Homo sapiens: one gene and its partner. The protein of the gene in region 1 interacts with the protein of each later gene in a pairwise test. Each region holds a gene or a part of one and is shown in the gene's direction. Other genes may lie near its edges.

What was found. Proteins that work in one complex are often made in the same cells at the same time.
Region 2: the proteins of EHHADH (region 1) and ZBTB10 interact in binary tests that used the Homo sapiens proteins (3 or more experiments, as listed by UniProt).

What each region holds. Positions count from the first base shown.
Region 1 is NC_000003.12:185,244,050-185,247,549, reverse strand, and holds part of EHHADH (peroxisomal bifunctional enzyme), read left to right. Parts: intron 1-3,500. UniProt on the Homo sapiens protein: Peroxisomal trifunctional enzyme possessing 2-enoyl-CoA hydratase, 3-hydroxyacyl-CoA dehydrogenase, and delta 3, delta 2-enoyl-CoA isomerase activities. Catalyzes two of the four reactions of the long chain fatty acids peroxisomal beta-oxidation pathway.
Region 2 is NC_000008.11:80,499,726-80,503,225, forward strand, and holds part of ZBTB10 (zinc finger and BTB domain-containing protein 10), read left to right. Parts: coding exon 1-657; intron 658-3,500. UniProt on the Homo sapiens protein: May be involved in transcriptional regulation.

The sequences.
Region 1 (3,500 bases):
TAAAAATAATAGTATTTTTAAACATGTTATATGTTAATTCTCAGTTAGTCCTACAATCCTCATTTACAGGTAAGAAGAGATTTTGAGCCTGGGAGAGATTAATATAATGTCCCAAACCTTAACCAGTTATTAAATGGCTTACTCACTGTTTGGAAATTTAAGGTTTGTCACCCAAGATGATGACGATGATGCATGGGAAGAGTGCTCAGAATGATAAAGAACTTGATATTTCTTTGTAAGAAAGAAGGTAGATGAGAGAATGTAATTAGAGTTTGGAGGCAGAAAAAATTATTCTTCTAAAAAAGTATTAGGGATTATGAAACTTGACTTAATACATTTACATAGAACAATGCACCCCAAAATGGGAGAATATACATTCTTCTGAAATACATCTGGAACATTTACAAAAATTGACCAGATACTGAATTATAAAATCTTATCTAAATAAATTTCATTAAGAATACATTATCTGACAACAATGCAATTAAGCTAGAAATCAATAACAAAAATATAACTAGTAATTCTCATATGTTTGGAAGTTAATTTCCAATATCCTCTGAGTAAAAACAGAAATAATGGAATTTAGAAAAAATTTGGAACTGAATGGCAATGAAAACATAATATAAAACTTGAGGGATGCAGCTAAAGTAAAACTTATCAGAAAATTTATAGCTTTAAAAATATATATTAGAAAAGAAAAATGGCTGAAATATAATGAGTTAAGTATTTATGTAAAGGAACTGACAAACTAACCGTAAAATACACCCTAATCAAGTAGAAGAAAGGAAATAATAAAGAGGAGAAATTAATGAAATAGAAAACATTTGAATCAAGAGGAACAACAATGTTAGTTTTTTGAGACTAATACAATTGACAAACTCTGGAGAGATTGAAGGAGAAGAGAAGGCACCAAGCAATGCATATAAAGAATGATGAAAGGGATATCATTGCAGATACTGTAGCCTTTAAGAAAGATAATGGCCCTTTGGCTGATGCAAGAGCCTAGTGCGGTGGTGGGAGAGGTATCAGCAGGAGCAGCGCTGCCACGGGGCCTGGGGGCTGACCTGTCTGACTTCCCATCCATGCGGAGCCCACTGGAATCGCATCCATATCTGGAGATGAGATGATTTTTGATCCTACTGTGAGCAAGAAGAAAAGAAGAAGAAGAAGCCTTTTATGTTAGATGAGGAAGGGGATACTCAAACAGGAAACGCAGCCCTCAGAAACAAAAGTCTGGAGCCAGAGCCAACTGAGGACAAAGATTTGGAAGCTGACAATGAGGACAGTAGGAAAAACGATGCTTCTGATGATCTAGATGACTTGAACTTCTTTAATCAAAAGAAAAAGAAAAAAAAACAAAAAAGATATTTGATATTGATGAAGCTGAAGAAGTTGTAAAGGATCTTAAGATTGAAAGTGATGTTCAAGAACCAGCTGAACCAGAGGATGACCTTGACATTATGCTTGGAATAAAAAGAAGAAAAAGAAGAATGTCAAGTTCCCAGATGAGGATGAACTACTAGAGAAAGATGAAGCTCTAGAAGATGAAGATAGCAAAAAAGATGATGGTATCTCATTCAGTAATCAGACAGGCCCTGCTTGGGCAGGCTCAGAAGGAGACTACACATAAGAGGAGCTGCTGAATTGTGTGTTCAACATCATGAGGGAAAAGAATCCAGATATGGTTGCTGGGGAGAAAAAGAAATTCGTTATGCAACCTCCACAGGTCGTCTGAGTAGGAACCAAGAAAACTTCTTCTGTCAACTTTACAGATATCTGTAAACTATTATATTGTCAGCACACTTGCATTTTTGTTGGTTGAATTGGGTACAAGTGGTTCTATAGATGGTAATAACCAACTTGTAAAGGAAGATTCCAACAAAAACAGATAGAAAATGTCTTAAGATTTATCAAGGAGTATGTCACTTGTCACACATGCTGATCACTGGACACAATCCTGCAGAAGGACATGCAACTCTTATTTCCTACAGTGTGAAACTTGTCATTCTAGATGTTCTGTTGCCAGTATCAAAACTGGCTTCCAGACTGTCATGGGCAAGCGAGCACAGCCCTGTGCCAAAGCTAACTAATTTGCTAATCACTGATTTTTCAAAGCGTGTTGTGGATATGTGGCTAAACCAGTTTGCCATCAGAGTGGATATACCATTGTATTAAAAGCAAGATAAAAAAGCTGCCAAGTTCTTTGGCTAGTGGCTGGTTGGTGTGAAATCCTTGCAAGATGCTGATGCTCAAGCTGTTGACATATGTATAGACTACTTTAACAACTGTCAGAGAAACATGATATGGGGTAAAGAGGTGCTTTTTTAAAATCGTTCATAGACTTCTGTAAAATACAAGATAAATTAAAGTTATTGTAACAGTGAAAAAAGAAAGATAATGAAAATATTATGAACATGTAAAAAAAATAGCTTCTCAAAATTAACTCAAGAAGAAATAGAAAACCCAAATAGTTCTGTAATCATTAAAGAAATTCAATCAGTAATCAGAAATCTCACCAAGTAAATACTTGACCCTGAAGACTCCACTGGCAAGGTCTACTGTAAAGTCAAGGAAAATATTCCAATTTTACATAAACATTTCAGAGAATCAAAAAAGTGGGGCCACTTTCTCTATTAGTTTCTTAGAGCACCATAACAAATTGCCACAAACCAAGTGGCTTAAAACAACAGAAATCTATTCTCTCATTGCTCTGGAGGATAGAAGTTTGTAATCAAGATATCAGCAGGGTCATTCTTCTTCTGTTTTCTTTAGGGAAGAATCCTTCCTTGCCTCTTCTAGCTTCTTATGGTTTCTAGCAATCCTTGGCCTATGGATGCATCACTCCAGTCTCACTTTAATCACATGGCTTTCTTTCCTCCATGTCTAAATTTTCCTGATCTTCTATAGGCCCACCCTAACTCAGCATGACCTCATCTTAATTTGATAACATCTGCGAAGACCTTCTTTCCAAATGTCACACTCACAGCTTCTGGGTAAACACTATTCAACTCAGTACACTTCCCAACTCATTTTTTGAGGCAGCATACCCTTGATACTAACACCTGACAAGGACAGTATGGAAAAGAAAAATTACAGGCTAATTTCATTTATAAATGTAGATATAAAAATCGTAGTGTAAATTGAGACAACAAAGCAACTAGGTAACAATATTATGACGGAAACAAACCCTCATATATCAATATTAACCCTGAACATAAATGGCCTAAATCCTCCACTTAAACATATAGACAGGCAAATTGGATTAAAAAACAAAACCTGATCGTTTTCTGCCCACAAGTGACACCCTTTGGTAAAAACACCCACAAACTCAATGGAGTGGAAAAAGATACACTGTGCAAACACAAAACAAAAATGAGCAGTAGTAGCTATATTTACATCAGATAAAGCAGATTTTAAATCAACAACAGTAAAAAGACAAAGAATGTATTATATAATAATAAAGGGTTCAATACAAGGAGAAGATATAGCTGTCTTAAATA
Region 2 (3,500 bases), on another chromosome or scaffold:
ACCAAAACAATACTACCCACTTAGATATTGCTGCAGTTCAAGGTTTTTCAGTCATCTTGGACTTCTTGTATTCTGGTAACCTGGTGCTCACAAGCCAAAATGCCATTGAAGTTATGACCGTGGCCAGCTATCTTCAAATGAGTGAAGTTGTTCAAACTTGCCGAAATTTCATTAAAGATGCCTTAAATATAAGCATTAAATCAGAAGCTCCAGAGTCTGTAGTTGTGGACTATAATAATAGAAAACCAGTTAATAGAGATGGTCTGTCTTCATCACGGGATCAAAAAATTGCCAGTTTTTGGGCAACACGGAATCTTACCAATTTGGCAAGTAATGTAAAGATTGAAAATGATGGTTGTAATGTCGACGAGGGCCAAATAGAAAACTACCAAATGAATGACAGTAGTTGGGTCCAGGATGGATCTCCTGAAATGGCTGAAAATGAATCTGAAGGTCAAACAAAAGTGTTTATTTGGAATAATATGGGCTCCCAGGGAATTCAAGAGACTGGCAAAACAAGGAGGAAAAACCAAACTACAAAAAGATTTATTTATAATATTCCACCTAATAATGAAACGAATTTAGAAGATTGCTCAGTAATGCAGCCACCTGTTGCCTATCCAGAAGAAAATACACTACTCATCAAGGAAGAACCAGGTAAATATTATCTATACAAGGATACTTCCTTGTTCATCCTAATTCTAGTTGGATATAATCTTGAAGTATATTTTTAATTGAATTATTTTAGTTATAAAGTAATACTAAAGTTGTTTACAAAAGAAGGGGGAACGTCATTCAAATGCATAACATATTTGGTATATTTTCTTTGTCTTTTTTCAACACATATATATGTGGGTTTATCAAAAGATGTATTAATAGCCAGGTATTGCATATATTGTCAAGGAACGTGGACTCTGCTGCATGTACGGGTCTTTGACTTTCCTCATTTTTAGCCTCTGTGCTCACTATTTTATACCCAGTGTTGGGAAAGATAGAATCTTTAGTTGTAATATATAATCACTGTCGTTTCAGAGACCCCCTTAACCTTTTTTATTTTATTTTTGGCTGTTAAAACATATTTAAGTGTTTCAAAGAATTTTGCCAATTATGAGATTATGGTATTCTAGTTTGTTTAGGGCTACTGTTCTTCTGTTATTTTTTGTTTATTTATTTTTTTGAGTCGGAGTCTCACTCTATAGCCCAGGCTGGAGTCTCACTGCAAACTCCGCCTCCCAGGTTCAAACGATTCTCCTGCCTCAGCCTCCTGAGTAGCTGGGACTGCAGGTGCGTGCCACCACACCCAGCTAATTTTGTATTTTTAGTAGAGATGGGGTTTCACCATGTTGTCCAGGCTGGTATGGAACCCCTGACCTCAGGTGATCTGCTTGCCTCGGCCTCCCAAAGTGCTGGGATTACAGACATGAGCCACCACACCTGGCCTAGAGCAGGTACTGTTCTGTTCTCACCATAGAAGCTATTTTGTTTGTCCACTGTCACCTGATTTTCATTCACCTTTGCATTCATTGCAAAGCCTCTGAGGCCTTTCTCTTCAATATATTTCTCTCCAAAAGTTCCGTAGGAATCTTAGAGAATCACATTTACAGTGGGAATTTTTTTAAAACGAGAAGACCATTGTTAAGTCTTTAGTTTAATCTGGCTGTGCATATCTTTATTTGAAGAAGCTCAGTGGGTTTGAGGTTTCCTATGCATGCCTGAGGCTTGTCCACCACTGTCATACATTATTTAATGCTTGTTTTTTTCACTTCAAAGCACTGTAACTGTTCAGTGTCTGATTTATACGATGGTGGTCATCTGAGGATGGAGTATTTTCTGTTAAAGGAATCACTGTTTTTAGTTGCCAGAGGGCAAAATGCCATAGTAATCCTGTGAAATGTTCCTCTGGCTTTTTAGATTTGGGTTAGCTTTCAGTGATAGGAATTTTGTGTATGTATGTGTGTGTGTGTGTGTGAAATTTTTACTGTGTGAAAAATCAAGTGTGTATATATAACGAATACTATATATCTTTTTCCTTGTACTTTATATCAAGTTTTAACAATAAAATCCCTGAGACAATTTAGTTAAATGAAGTATTAAGGGTAGATAGACTCCTTAGCTAGCACTTTGTTTTGTCTTAATGTAGAAGACCTTGACAGATTTCTCATTAGAGCTACGTTGTCTTTGTGCTGTATGGATTATTTCTGTTTAACAGTATGGTGGGAACCCTGTAGTGTTTTTAAATACACACACTTTTCCTTAAAGGAATAAATAACATCTTTTGGGTGTAGCGGTTGTTTGATGGTAACTAGTCAGCAGTAACCTCATTTAAAAAATTAATGCCACATATAATTGGAGTGATTTAAAGAAAAGCATTAATAATGAACCACAATGCATACTTTCAAAGATGACATTACTAGCAATTTTTATCAAGTATCTCCTAGCCATGGTTGTGTTAATGGACTAGTTCTATTATAAATTAATTGGTGGTCTAATATGCTTTATCTCTTACATCTGTTTTGTTTGTTTGTTTTTAAACGGAGTCTCACTCTGTTGCCCAGGCTGGAGTGCAGTGGCACAGTCTTGGTTCACTGCAACCACTGCCTCCTGGGTTCAAGCGATTCTCCTACCTCAGCCTCCCAAGTAGCTGGGATTACAGGCACATGCCACCACACCTGGCTAATTTTTTTATTATTACTAGAGACGGGGGTCTCACCATGTTGGCCAAGCTGGTCTCGAACTCGTGACCTCAAGTCCACCCACCTTGGCCTCCCAACATGTTGGGATTACATGGGTGAGCCACCGTGCCCAGCCGTCTCTTAAAAAGGATTATTTTCATTTCATTGATACCAGTTTGGTATCCGAACCTTGCTTAACTCACAAATTTGGTTCTATCCATGCCACCAGTGTTATTTGGTGGAAAAAATAAATGGGTCTCAAAAGAGCATTATGGTTAGGGTATATAATATGATATAGAACCAAGGACTGGTAAATTTTTACTGTAAAGGGCTAAAACAGTAAAAAAAAAAAAGACTTTCACCTTTGTTGGTCATAAAAGTCAGCTCATCAACTCTGCCACTTGTGACATGAAAGCAGTCATTTGTACTATGTAAACAAATGAAGGTAGGTGTGTTCCAGTAAAACTTGCCAACCCTTCGTATATAGCAGTGGTTCTTAATCATGGGTATGCACGTTGGTATCACTTGGGAGCATTACATGCCGTAAAGGGTCTCTCTTCTGTGGATTCCAATTTAATTGGTATGGAATGTGGTTTGGATGTGGAATTTTTTTTAAAGTTCTACAGGTAATTTTATGAGTTAAGGCTGAGATCAGCAAATATTACTATATTGGAAAGAGCCTAAATTGAGTCAAACATAATGAATTTAAAATTTAAAAATAAGCTGTGCCACCTACCCCCTGTAGTCCATGATCAAATTAAGCTCTTGTCCTCAGTTTCCTCATTAAAATATTGTGTTGATTTTATAGAATTATTATGAAAATGAAGT